2 separate regions of the Homo sapiens genome follow, and region 1 is linked to region 2. A link means that fine-mapping ties the variant in region 2 to the expression of a gene that starts in the linked region. Tissue or cell type: prefrontal cortex. Region 2 holds a variant in brackets; the other region holds the start of a gene. All regions are shown on one strand. Distances are from middle to middle.

Region 1 (6,409 bases), 420 kb after region 2:
CGAAGCTAAAATTATCTTCTGTCTTCCTTCCCACTGTTTTCTAAATATTCCCACGAATTGAAGAGTCTTCTGACTGTCTCATCCTCTTGACTTTGGGTCCTTTCACTCAGAAAGTCATCAAGACACACTCGAAAAATAAAATGTAAAGGCTTCAACCCACACCCTGAAACGAAGCACCCATCTCTTTGCTGCCACAAACAGGCCAGTATGAAATCTCTTTCAGGGAAGCTTTCTAAAGGGAAGAAACTGATGATGAAAACATTATGCAGCTGACAATACTTGGTGATGATGCAAGCAGGGCTGCCCTATCTAAAAATGTGTTTGTCCCCAAAAGACCGGCTTTGCAGTGACCCCTCCAGAAGAATATGTGCAGTAGCAACAGAGAAACTGTCAAGAAGATATGCCTCCGTGTAACTGCATTGCTGTCTCCATTTATGTGTGCCAGACAAGTACCCCCACAGAACTTGAGATGCTCAGGCAAAGACGAGGGCGATAGGAATGTCATTCGGAAATGATTTCACACCGGGTTAGCCCTGCACAGCCAGCCAGCTTGCATCCTCTGGGGCAGAGGACGCCTCTCCGCCTGCAGCAGCCTGCGCGTACCGCTGCCAACTGCCACCGGTTCCTTCACCTTTTATTTACAGCGCAGAGCAAGCTGGTTCACCGGTGAAGCGGGGGAGGCAGGGAATAAGATACAATCTAGATTCTGCTCTTTCTCTGGGGACATAAAGAGGGTCCGACCAAGGAGGAGGGGAAGCCCAGATTGCACCACCAGAGCAGTAGCGCGACCCTCCTCCCAAAAGGGTTCTGCACCTGGACTCCAGCAGAAGCGCCCGGAGAGTCCCAGGAAGCCAGGATCAAGCCCAGCGCCTCGGCCCCGTTCCGCGCGATGGAAGAGGCGCCAACCGAGCGTACTGCACAGGAAATCACTGCCCCCTTCAGGCCGCGTCTCAGACGCTGCGGTCGGAGCACAGGGGCTCGCTCGGTCCGGAAAAACTCGCAAACCCGACCTTGCGCGGCCAGCGATCGCTCCTCCAGACCCGCTCCGCGCGCTCCAGCCCCGGCCTGGCGGTGAAGGTCCGCTCTGGGGCTTCAGGCAGAACCCAAACCGAGGGCGTGGGGAGGGGTCTTGGGATGGAAAGCCCTTGGCTCTCTGGCTCCGCTCCGGACTGCTCTCCAAGTCTGTGCTCCGGCTGCTAGGTCGGATGCTTCAAGCCTGAGCCGTGAGAAACTGCCTGCAGCCGCCCGGCCAACAGCAGCGGCGCGGCCGGACACCACTGCACGTCCGGGACGAGAACTGCCAGGGCACTTTCTGAGCAACTAACCCGAGGCAGGGGTCTCCTGAAATCGCTCTGGCCACAGGCAGCGCCGGGCACGTCCAGGCAGAAGCGCTGCAGAGCCGGTGGCCCCACACTTGCCCGCGCGGAGCGGGCTCAGAGCTGCTGGCGCGCACCAGGCGCCCAGCCACGCTGCACGCTCAAGCCCCTTGGGTTCCGGAGCCTTCCGGACCTCAAAGCGCGGCTCGGCTTCCCTGGGGGCCTGTGAGCAGGCCCGCGGCCCCTCCGGCCCTGGGTGGCCCAGTTTGCAGTCAATGCGCCTGTTCCTCCCACTCGGTACCTCGCAGCCCCATGAGCGGGACCTGGACAGGGACAATCAATGTAGGCCTTTGGGGGTCCAGCCCCCACCTTCTCCACTCCTTTTTCTCTGGTCAAAAGAGACCCCAGTCTTCTATCCCACCCCCACCCCTCCCCACACACACATACACACATAAGACCAGAGGAGGGGGTGCTTGGCAAATGTTACCAGCTGTGCCAGCCAAGCCCAGCAGGACCGCGGGGGTGAACACTGGGCACCAGCCCTCTCTGCCCTCGGCAGGCGCGGGCCGGTCAATCGGGGATCTGACCAAAGGCCGGAGGTTGCCTGTGTCCAAACCACCCACCCCAATGCCCCCCGAAGCCCCGACGGCAGGGGCAGCCGGACACTCACCTCCGTGTCATAGAGCCGCAGGTCGAGGAAGTAGGGGCGCAGGAGTGACTCGTTGCGGATCTGCTCGATGGCCAGTTCCACGGCGGGGAGCACACCGCGCCCGATGCTGCCCTTGGCCACCTCCTTGGTGAGCGGCATGAGGCCCATGATGGAGAGCGGCGGGCTGCTGGGCGGCGGCCGGGGGGCGCCCCGCGCCCAGCCCCAGGCCCCGGGCGCCAGAGGCAGCAGCAGCGGCAGCAGCAGTAGCAGTAGCAGGCGCGCGGGCGGCGGTGGCGGCGGCGGCGGCGGCCCGGGCTGCCCGGAGCTCCGCGGGGAAGCCATGCCGCGCCGCGGGCTGCGGGCGCCGGCTCACTCGGCCCGCATGGCCTGGCCCGGCCCGCCGCCCCGCGCCAAGGTCTTCCCGCGGCGCCCGCGCAATGGCGCCGGCCCGGGCCCCGGCTCCGTCTCGGGCTAGGGTTCCGGCTCGGCTCAGAACGGCCGCGGCGGCGGCGGCGGCAGCGGCGGCGCCCGTGACGGATCAATCACGCCGGGAAGGGGTGGGAGCGAGCGGAGTGCGGGAGGCGGGGAGCAAGCGAGCAAACGCGGAGAGGGGGGCCGGCGTCTCCGCGCGCGCCTCTCTCCAGCGCGGCCGCCCCGCACCGGGCCGCCTCCGCCCGCCCCCGTGCGCGCTCTGAACCGCTCTCCCGCCGGGAGCTGCTAGGCGGCAGCCCCTGGAGCTCGGCCGGGGGAGGGCGGACGGCAGGAAACGCGGGAGGCGAAGGCGAGGCTGCTCAGGGGCGGCTCGGGCCGCCTCCAGGGACGGGGACGAGCCGTGCGCGCCGGGGGAGGGGGAGGCGCTGGCGCTGCGGCGGCCGCGGGGAGGGCCACCTTCCCAGCACACGCACACACGCGCCCCCGGCCCTCCGCTGCGCCAGCTGCCGCTGCCCGCCGACCGCTGACCTCCAGGCACCAGAGCGCCCGGGGACAGCGATCTGGGAACCGGGACCGCGCGCTGGCACACGCAGTGGCCGCCGCCGCTCCGCCGAGCGCTGCCTGTAGCACCTGCACGGTGGTTTGGAACCGCTTCTCGGAGGTCTGGCCGGGAAGGTCTGGGCAGGAGAATGTTCCACGAAGGCGTCCCAGAGGCATCTGCAGCCTACGCTCTCCCGTTCTTTTCTGGCGCCCACGAGCCCCTGACCGAGTCCCGGGGGTCGCTGAAGACGCCCACGGGTGCTCGAACGCCCGTTGGTGCCAGGCTGCCCGGCCTTTAGGGCCTTGGCTGAGGACACCCCTTTCCTCCCCACCAGACGGAGCGACCGCCCTTTGCCAACCCCAAGCAAAGCTGGGGTCCCAACCTTACGTGCGCTACCGCCCCCTCCAGGCATTTGACCTCCCCGCGTCCCCATTCTTGATGGGCCCCGCCCTAGAAGTCTCCCGGGGTGGGAGCACTATCCTCAGGCCAGGGCGGGGCCGCGCGCCCCTGGACTTGGCCCTCTCTCTGCCAGGTCGCACTGGCCAATCTTAGCCAAAGCAGTCCCGAGCCAGATGTACCCGAGTGAGCTGACCTAAGACCTTGGGTTCCTTGTGCCTCTGCATACTTCAAGAATAGGAAACGTGATCATTAATCTATAAAGTCCCAGGGGCTGATTAATGCGAGGAACACAGTAGGACATCAAATCACAAAACATACTTGAGCCTGAACCAGGGACTGTGGAAGATATCGACGACCTTGTAACAAGAATGGAAGTTTGACCTTCGCTGAGTACTTACTGTGTGCCTTATGATGTAATCCCCACAACTGCCCTGTAAGCATACTGTGTTACTCACCCTTACTTTACAGGCGAATACACTGGTGCTCAGAGAGGTTCTGTAGCTAGTGGAAGCACACAGAGCTACTGAAGGACCGGAACCCAGAGCCAGCAGGAACTCCGTGCACAGTGCAGTGGGAGCCAGGGATGTGGGACTGCAAGTTTCCTCTCCAGGAGGAGCACTGCCCTGACTCAGTTGCTCTGGACATCGATTCCCTCCGGCATATGGTGAGGGATTTGGACCGGATGATGATGATGATGGCCACACACCAGCTCTACTGGAGTGAGGCAAGGGCAGCTCTGAATCCAGGCTGAGTTGTTAGGAAGCACAAAGATGTGAGTGGAGGCTGAGCAGAACTACTAGAGAGTACCTTGGACAGCGCCAGGGAAACCAGGCCAAATTCTCTCTGCCCTAACTTCTCTTTCCAGGCTTCTATAGACTCCACCTCTCCCGGCTCCACTTGGCATTTCCTTTTCCCCAAGCTGGAGGGTTTGCATGAACAGAACTCACCTGAGCATCTCCTCCAGGAAGGGAGGAAGGAAGGGAGGGAGGGAAAGAAATGGTCCAAAGGACAGTGTAATCCCCAGATACTCGCTCAACTGCTGTCTCACTTGACATCACAAATATCCTCCAGTCATAGTCTTCTGGCACCTGCCATTCCTCAAACCCTTAGCTCAGGTTTCTGAATGAACATTTTCACTTGGTTTTTTTCTTTTTTCTAATTCTTTCCTTTAGTCATTTGTGTCCTCCTTGCAAGCTGTGCCAATATAGAGTGTCCACTGACACCTACATCTGGGAATAAGTTGAAAGCTGGGTAACTTTGCCTGACATTTACTAAGGGGTTGAAGGCCCTACCTGGCATCCTGCCCTACAGCCCCTCTGTCTTCTTTTATGGTGGGGTGACCTGGCCCCAAGACGCATGACCTGGGATCTGCCCTGACCCAGGGGGCACCAATCTCACTCTCCATCAGCATGGCTCCAGGCCAATCTCTGATCTCACAGCCCACTCCTAATGCCTGGGCATCCCTCTGGTTCCAAGATCTTACTCTGGCCTGGTATTACAGTTTGGGTAACTGCATCCCTGATGTGCTTCCTGAGTCTGAGTTCCTGCCTCAGTCACCAGCCTAGAATGCATGTTCCTCCAGAGCTGGGGTCCAGCGTCTTGCTTTATAATAATCATTCATTCCTTTGACCAGTGTTTTGAAGGGCATGCTACCTGCTAGGCACTGTCCTAGGAGCTGATGATATAGGAAGGAAAAAACCAGAACAAAATCCCTGCCCTTGTAGAATTGACATTCTAGTGGAGAAAGAGAAACAATAAATAGGAAGAAGAAGATATGTTAGTATGCCCATTTATGAAAAGTGCTATGGTGAACAAAAAAGCAGGAAAGAGGATTGAGACTGGCAGAGTGGGGCTGCAATTTGAAATAGGGAGGTCAGGGAAAGACACACTAAGGTGACTCCTCAGCAAAGACATAAAGAAGGTAAGTAAGAGAGACAGGCGAATAGTGTTCCATGCAGAGGAACAGCAAGGGCAGAGGCTCCGAGACAGGAGTGTGCCTGGCATGTTCAAGGAACAATGTGGAAGCCAATGTGGTAGAGCAGAGTGGGCAAAGGGAAAGCAATCAGATCCAAGGTCAAAGGCAGGTAGGACTGTATGGGGCCTCAGCACTGGGAGGGCACATGAAACAGCAACCGTGGGAGGCTACTGGGTGGAGCAGTGACATGATCTGATGTATTTTAAGAGGATCACTCTGGCTGTAGAGTGAAGAACCGTTAGCAGGGGAAAAGAGCGTGAGCAGGAATACCTGTTAGGAGTCTCTACTACAATAAGCACATTTGGTGGCCAGGCCAGGGTATAAGCAGAAGAGAGGATGAGAATTGGCTAATCATTGTGCTTCTTATTAATTGGAATAAAATGCATTGGCCAAGTCCCAGAATGTGGAAAACACTTGATTCCCTTGAACTCATCTACCTTTTAAGAGATGTAATAGAGACTTAGAAAGCAACGTGCTCAGGTTGCACCTCCAGGAAGTAATGAAACATCCGTGTTAGCCCAGGTCTGTATGGCTTAAATTATTATCTTGTTTGCATAATCCTGTTTCCTTAGCAATCTTTTCTCACAAACCCTCTGCCTACACACAGAAGCCAGTCTCTAAACCCCAGCTCAGAGGTTGAGAGATGGTGCCCGCTTCCTTTCTGGGGATTTTGGGGCTCCATGGTCCAGCTGGCTCCCTGTCAACATGACACTCCATCCCTTTGAACAGGATCCTGATGCTGGGAAGCTAACCAGGCCTTTCTCTGCTGTCTGCTCTCCTTCCTTATTGGGCTGACACCCTGTGCCACCCAGGGCTGCTCAGATCTGCCCTCCAGAGCTGCCTCCTTCCAGGAACTGGGTCCAGTTTTTAACACCCTTTTCCCCATTTGATTGTTATCCATGCCTGCCTCTACTCTAACTCCTAACAGCAGCAAGGTCTTCTCTCACTTTCTTCTTTAAAACAAAACAAACTATATATATATAGTTGATATAAGGTTGGTGCAAAAGTAATTGCAGTTTTTGCCATTGAAAGTAATGGTAAAAACTGCAATTACTTTTGTACCAAACTAATATATAGGATTGAGACTGGAAGGGTGG
Region 2 (7,910 bases):
GATGTGGTTGCTGGACAGGCAGAGGTGCTGATGGCCGCCAGTCTGCTTTTTGCAATCTACCCAGTACCACCTCCTCTCCCTGGCACTGGCTTCTAGGCCTGTGGATCCTGATCCTTGTAGAGAAGAAATTGCTGAGCACAGGAAACTGCCTGGAAGGGCAGGCCTCGGCTGGTGCCCCAGGCTTAATGTTTTCAGAAACCTCTCCCCTTCTTCCCTCAGAGTGGACCCCAGTGTTGTCTCCACACCCCAGGGTGAGGAGACCCCCAGGCAGAGCTTTCTAAGAGGGCTTCAACTCCAGAAAGCCTGTCTTTGAGGTTGGGAAACACTCTTTTATTTTTAACTCAGAAATGACCCAGTCATAACAAAAGGAAGACAGAATGCTTTTGAAGAAGAATGAAGAGGAATGAAGTGCACCATTGCTGTCTGGGCTTTTCCTGCTTATGGCCAAGCAAGGCATCACTTCAGTGATGTGACAAGGAGCATCTTCAACACTTGGGTCATTTCTCTCTTTCAGACGTGCTAAGAGGAAAGACCAAATGTTGTCTTGGCTGACTCCATATTTAGTGAGGCTATGTAAAGATTTCTCAGTCTGTGGTAGCTGAGAAATTGCTCTATGGGGCAGCGTCTCACCGCTGTGGTCGTACTACCTATGGCAGAACAGGTGTGGGAAGTGGACTGAGAAGAGCCAAGTCTCAAAACCAGGACATCTGGGTTCCATGCTGGCCCTCTCGTGACCTTCTGGTTGACCTTGGCTCCAGTTGCTGGGCCTCCGTTTCCCCAACTGTACTAGGAGGGGCTGGGTGAGATGACCGCTGCCACCTTTCTCTGCTCTAATTTCTGTGAGTCAGGGTCAGGTAGAGAAGGAAGACCAGCTAAGATTCTGGTTGTTCCTGCCTTTGCCACAGCCTTATTAGGTGGCCTTGGGTACGTATTCTTCATGTTGGGCCTGTTTCCCATCCTTGAACAACCCACATCCCGTAGGATGGCTGTATGAGCAGTGGTGTGGAGCAGCAGGCACAGAGCAGGGGTCTCCTGGGCCAGGATTCAGAGAGCCTGCTCCTTGGGAGCCTCCACGTTGAGGATCCCATGTCCCGGAAAACTCCAGGCTGGGACTAGCCCTCCAGTGGAGTCTGTGAGTCCAGTGCACCCATTTCTAGGACTGCACCCAGTCACATGAACCTCGGGCCTCCCCAGCCTGCTGTGGCCACCTCTGCTTTTACTCTGCCTTCTAGACCCAGCAACCAGTGTGGACAAGCCTCTGTCAAAATGTTCAATTATGAAAAGCCTCGTTGAAGCCCATTCTGAGCTACAGGGAGGAACTGCTGCCCAGTGGAACGTCATGGAAGCAGACATGAGTCCCATCGTCAGGGAGCTCAGGGTCCGGAATGGGGAGGGGACAGCGTGGGCATGTATGCAGTGCTGTAGAGAGGGGGAATGTCCTCAGTCCAGAGCTAGGAAGAGAAGATCCCATTGAAGGGGATCTAGTCGGAGCTGCCGGCTGAGGCTCAGCACCCTGGAGAAGTAAAACAGACTTTGGGGTGGCTCCATAGGCTCCGGGGGGTGGGATGATGAGGCTAGAAAGGAGCATGGGGCCAAATCTCGACAGGCTGGCAAGGCCCCGAAGGGGAGTTGGGGCTGGAGAGGTTGTGGGTTTTCCATATTATTTAAGAATCTTGGGATTGCAAGTGATGGGAACCCAACTTGAACTAACCTCGGCAAAAAGGGCAATGTATCAGAAGAACAGAGAATCCAAGGAAGTCCTGAACAACTGAGCAGGTGAGGAGGGCCCAGAGTGCCTTCAAACCTCCTGAAAACAGCTGGCAGAAACCCTGGGAAGTGCTCTGATTGGCTGGTCCTGGATAATGAGCATATTCCTGAACCAATCACTGTGTCCGGGGGTGGGAGCAAGGATGGTGGGAGCAAGATTCCCTTCCAATAGGTCCCCTTCCTTACCCCAAAATCAGGGCTGTGCTTTCAGAGGAGCGCAGGAAGGGACCGCTAACCAGGTACTCAGACACCATCAGAACTCAGCTGTTGGTCCTGATTGTCTCTCTGTTGGCTCCATTTTTTTTTTTTTCTGTTTCATCGCAGACTAAATTTCTCTACATGGAGGAATCCTGAGGAAGTGATTTACCGGCCCAGCCTAGGTCAAATTCCCACCCTCGAATTAATCAGCTGTGGCCAGAAGTTGGGGTCACCTGGTAACAGGGCTGCTTTGCCGCTGTCAGCAGGAGGCTGGGATGGGCAGTTTATGAAGGAAGGGACAATGCTGAGCAGGCAACCCCAGAATTGTCCCCTGAGTTTCTAAGCGGAGGAATATGGCCCGATCTGACCTGCATTTTGGGATGAGTAGGCATTAAAGACGACAGGTTTTTTCCTTTTATTCATAAAAACAAATTTGCAACAATTTATTAAAAATCGATACCATGCAGTAGGGGTACGAGAAATTCCTCATTTACATTTGATTCTGGCAGTTCCAGTCTAATTTAAAGCGTTTTGTGCACTAACATCATTGGAAAATGCCTTCAGGCCGAAGCCTCTTCAGAAATGGACGGTGTGTTTGCTGCATATAAAAGAACAGAACCATTAAGTAGCTAGAGTCACTTCTGTGGGTCTTGTTATTTGCGAGGAAATTAAAAAAAAATGGGTGAACCTACAGTATCAGTAAGACAGAGAATGTACTTCGTGAGTTAACCTAGAAGACAGCGCACGCTCAGGAGTCACAAAGGGTTACAGACGCACAGGCTCACCTCCGACAGTCCAATACTTTTGTTTGTTTTCCTGCTATGCTGGAATAATATTTCTACAGGTATTTTTTTTTGTGTGTGTGTATACATTATGTACAATTAATTGTCTCTTTCCCTTTGAAAAATTAATGTGGTCCTTTAAATTAAATTTGGTTTTGGTGAAATCAAGAAAGCAAGTAAATACTGGTAATACACAGTGAGTGACAACACCGATTTTTAGTGCCTAAACAGAGAATGACTTCAACTTGACCTGTGATGTGTTAACATTTTTTTTTCCCTAAAAGCTACAGTACCTCCATAACCTCTCTTTGGGGAAGGGGAGCAGAAAGCTATGCTACGTGAAATAGGGTGCTTTGAAATGTTGGCATTGGTAAGATTCCTGTGGGCCCTTTTGTCAAAGCCTGGTGGAGAAAACAGTTTATTCCTGACTGCAGTGGTTCTGGGAAGAGATTATTGCCTGCCTGTTGAAGCTGCCAATAGGTTTCTTTAGGGAGTGAGCGAGCTGCTCAGTTGTGCAGACATCCTGGACATTGTCATTCAGGCCTTTCTTGAGCAAAGAATGAACCTGTCTAGGAATGTCAGAAAAGTCACTGGGAGCCTCCCTCCAGCCCGGATGTTCTGGGTAGAGGGCTGTGCTGGAAGCTTCTCTGGGCCACACCCCCGGCTGTAGGGAGGGCTGAAGGTCAGAGTCATACTCATACCTCACGGATCAGGGCGGCTTCACTGTTTGGTACAAAGCTTTCCTGGACAAGATCAAGTTTCAATCCTCAGAGTGACCTTGTGAGGTAGGCAGGACAGGTGTTTTAGTTCAACCCCAAGTTACAGAGGGGAAACTGAGGCTCAGAGAGACACTAGTGACCTGATCAAAGTCACGTAGGGAGTGGGCAGGGGACTGAGGACTTGAACCCAGGTCTGTCTGACTCCCAGGCCAGTGCTCTTAGGGGCTCAATTTAAAGGGAGGAATGATCTTATGAATGAGAATCAATCTGCTGACTGATCACCCCAGTGATCCCAAGGGGAGAGCTCACTGGCTTGTCTGGATGGAAGGCTGCCTTCTGGAAGCCAAGGGAAGCCCTCAGCCAGCAACTCTCTCCCCTATGTCTACGGGGATGTCTTTTAGCAGAGTGCCTCCAATTCACTTTGGTCAGAAACAAAGTTAGTGGGAAAAAAAAAAAAAAAATCCCAGCCAGCCCTTGGGCCCTGATGAGAGAGGTTAAAGTGCACAATCTTTCTTTATCGTGTTTGCTGGGAACAGACATTCCATGATTAGCTCGGGTGGTCCCCCTGGTTACTGGGAGCATCCGATAGGAACACAAGGACATGGCCAACGTGGTGGGTGCATGACAGACTGTCGGTGAATGCTGCAGAGCGTGTCTGCAGTGACGTGCCCTAAATCCCCACGGTCCCAGGAATGGGTGTTATTGTGTTAACGTGTGGCATTTACCAGAGTAACAAACATCTCATTGGGTGACACAGGTCCCATGTGGAGCATGTAAGTCAGCCTGCTCCAGTGCCGCAGCCCTCGGCCTGCCTGCTCCAGGGCTGTGCCTGTCTGCGCTCCTGCAGACTCCCTGTTCCAGGAAGGCTGGGGTCAGCTGGCCTGGCAGCTGGGGGCCTGGTGGCCCTTCCCACCTCCTCCCCCAGAGTGGAGAAGGGCTAGCCTGAGGGGTCACAGCCAGTGATGTGTGTGCAGAGGCAGTTTCTTCAGAAGCTCCTTGCCTCTTCCCAAGGCTGCTCGAGCCACTCCGTGACTTCCAGCTGGAGTTCTAGTGCCTCTCTCCTTGTCTAGTTTTTTTGTTTTTTTTTTTTTTTTTTTTTTTTTGCAAGTTTGATATCCCAGCGCCTCCTTGTTTGCAGATGTTAAGGAAGACGTCCCATTTCCGTTCCTCTTCTTTGTGAAGAAATAAGGACTTCACAAATAAGGCTCGAGGTCAGGTGCCAAGTCTCCCCCTGCCCCGTCCTGTCCACCTGAGTGCCATCCGAGTGGTCCTGAGAGGCCAGCCATGGTGCCCAGCTTCTCCGCAGCCAGAGCCGACAGTGTTTCTGCAGCAGACCCCTCTGCCCAGTGTGGTTCTGTCACGGGGGAGGCCCCGGGCCCAGGCCTCCCACCCTTACAGGCCCGAGACCATGACTCGGAAGGAGGGTGGCACATGTCTGTGGCGGGGGCTGGCGGTGGGGCTGACGCAGGGGCTGACACAGCTGGCGTCCACGCCTCCGATGGATGGGAGGTAGGCGTGGTGGAGGATGGGGAGCTGGAGGGACAGCCGACGCTGGATGCTGAAGAGAAGGAGAGGGAGGAGTGTTAGTGAAGGGTAGCTGGG[C/G]GCTTACCAGAAAGTTCCTTGGACTTGCTTTGGCTAAAAAAGCTGATGACAGGAGCATATTTTTCTCTGAATCCAAGATCTGTCCATCCAATCATCTAACCATTCAGCAATCCAGCAGGTATTTAATGAGGGCCCATATGTACCAGCTACTGCCCTGGGAATGACCAGGGAGACTTGAATAAACAAGGGAGATGAATTTTCTCGAGCTTTGGGCCAGGATTTGGTGGTTATTATAAATACCCTAGCAGAAAAGATGCTCCTTGACTTACGATGGGGTTACATTCCCATAAACCCATTGTAAGTTGAAAATATCGTAAGTTGAAAAATGCATTTAATCCACCTAACCTACCAAATATCCTAGCTGAGCCTCGCCTACCTTAAATGTGCTCAGAACACTTACAGTTGGGCCATATCATCTAACACAAGGCCTATTTTATAAAAAAGTGTTAAATATCTCATGCAATTTACTGAATACTGTACTGAATGTGTATCACTTTCACACCATTGTAAATTTGAAAAATGGTAAGTTGGGGACTGTCTGTATTACTAAGGACAAAGCTTTGCCTTTCTATCAGGGCTTTGCTGCAAACCAGATAGTTCGCATTCTCTACTCTTGCAAACCTCCACAGGGCTTTCAGTTTCATCCCTGAAAGACTTCTCGCCTGCTCCATCCTTCCTCTCTCCCGTCTGCCTCTGCTTTGCCCAGGACCGCATCTCTTCTTGCTGGGCCAATTCCCACAGGCTCTTCCAGCTTCTTTGGTAACTAGTGTTATCTTTCCAACACTAGGAAGCCAAGGAAGGGAAAAAAAGGGACACTGATGTGATATTTGGGGCCCCCTAAGTTCCATCTTTGGATCAGAATTTTCCAGGTGAATCTTCCATCCTTTCCACCTGTAAGCCCTGCCCTCTGGCAGCCAGTTTCCCTGGAAACCCTGCTCCTGGGTGCTCTTCTGCTGTTTCCCTGTCTGGAAGACTCTTTCTCTGCTTCCTGACATGATGAACTGTGTCTCCTTCAAGATCCAGTTTAAATATCACCTTGTTTGTGCTCACTCTCTGCTAGGAGAACCCTTCCTCTGCTAAGCAGAACCCTAGGTAAATACTCAGAAATGAAGCCAGAAAAAGCTGGAGGCAAGATGGAGCTGGGTGTGGGTTAGCACGTGATGGAGGAGCAGCAAGGGAAAAGGGAGCTGCCCTCTGACTCCCTTCTCATTGCCACACCCTTCTGGTCTTAATGACTGTCATGTCACTTTGTTGAAAAGGCTGCTTGCGGCAAATGTGCCCAGGTGACTGCTCCTCTGCTCGGCTCAGCTGCATTCTTGCACAGTTCTCCATGGGTGCAACTTTCACACCGCATTCCTTGAGAGAAGGGACTGAGTTCTTATGCCTTCTTGTGTTCCCAGTGCCTGGCCACTCACGTGCAAAAAAGCGAAAAACAAAAACCCCAGAGCTTAACAGACACCCAATAGGCAAAAGAAATACTGCTATTCCCATTATAAAGAAGAGGGAAGAGTACAGAGTTCAGGTAACTTCCCCATGGAAACAAAACCAGAACTGGGGAAGCTGGAATTCTTGCTGCTTCTGTTCAACCACATTGTTTTGTGGTGGAGGCGAATCAACTCATGGGGGCAGCCTTATCCCAACTGGGTGTGCCCTTGGGGTTCATTTAGGTCACTGGTGGGTTCTGAGATAGATGGGTACAGACGAAGTGCTGCCCACACTTTCCAGAAAGATTCCTCCCAAGAGACACCTCACAGGTGTGCATGGAACTACAGTGTTGGAGATCTCATTCTGAAGTTAAAGTTGGACCTGTATAATGTCAGCTGAAGTCTGTGTCTTAAGGCAAGATCATGCTGGCAAGAAGTCCAGGACAAAAAGGGAAGAATAAACTGTGACCTGGGAAAAGGGTGTCCTGTCCAAGCACCCAGGGCAGGGCTATCTGCCTAGGCAAGGTGGGTCCTGTGGTTGTCAGAGCATTCTTCTGTCTGTTAGGATCCTGTTCACCTTTCATTCATTCAACAAATGCTTGTCAAGAACCTATTCACTGGCAGAACCTGTGTTCGGTGCAGGGGACACATGAAGGACTCATAACTTACTCTCAAGGTGCTTACACTCTACTGGAGGCAACTGCTAGGCAAACTGCTGACAAATTCCATGTAACTCTCACTCACTGTCCTGGACTGTAAGCTGGCCAGGCCTTGGAGCTAGTTGGGTTGACAGGCCCTTAGCTCTAATACTAAAGAGCCCCAAATGATGCTGCAATTGGTGATTTGGCTGCTTTTGCTGGTTCCTCATTGCTTGTCACTTCCAGAGGCCAAGTTTCAAAGTTTGTATTTCCAGCTTCTGCTTCCAATGTGCTATAAGATGGGAAGGCCTAAAATTGCCTGTGGGAACAAAGCTAACAGAGATGTTCAGGTCTTTGCTTTGATGTCACCATCTCATTGAGTCTTCTCTGACCACCCTATTTAAAATGACACTCCCTGACCCCCTTCTGTGCTTTTCCTCCAAAGCTCCTATTGTTTGACATGCCACTTCTTGCTTTTTAATTAAGCTATCAGCCTCCTAGATAGAATGGAAGCTCTATGAAGATAGGAATTTTAGTCCGTTTTCTTCACCGCTGTAACCCTAGCACCTATGCCTGACATACAGGAGGTCTCAGTAAACTGTTAAGTAAATGCATTTAGCAAGGTTAAATTTTACACATAACAAAGGCAGCGTCTTGTGGTAGACAACATGGGATTTGATGTTGGAAAGATGTGAGTTCAAGTCCTACTTCCTGCATGTAGCAATTGAGTGACCTTTGGCAAGTCACCTCCCCTTTTTGAATATTAGTTTTTCATCTGTA

Which allele goes with the higher level. Alleles are on the strand shown, and positions count from the first base shown. SD is a standard deviation of normalised expression in the study named.
For the expression in prefrontal cortex of the gene that starts at base 2,505 in region 1, allele G in region 2 goes with a lower level than allele C (small effect, 0.15 SD a copy in ROSMAP).

The links. PIP is the estimated chance that this variant, and not a neighbour inherited with it, causes the effect.
Region 1: GABBR2 starts here. The variant in region 2 is fine-mapped to the expression of GABBR2 in prefrontal cortex (ROSMAP, PIP 0.94).

What each region holds. Positions count from the first base shown.
Region 1 is chr9:98,706,431-98,712,839 of GRCh38, forward strand. GABBR2 (gamma-aminobutyric acid type B receptor subunit 2) reads right to left here and starts at 2,505. Exons shown (of 19, transcript NM_005458.8): 1 at 1,987-2,505. The coding sequence starts at 2,307. RefSeq lists enhancers at 131-702, 1,274-1,844, 3,597-3,891.
Region 2 is chr9:98,285,726-98,293,635 of GRCh38, forward strand. It overlaps GABBR2 (gamma-aminobutyric acid type B receptor subunit 2), which reads right to left. Exons shown (of 19, transcript NM_005458.8): 19 at 2,384-5,024. The coding sequence ends at 4,859. Among named protein-coding and RNA genes, the nearest start is that of TBC1D2, 34 kb to the left of the region's middle. The variant C/G (reference allele first, on the strand shown) is at 5,069.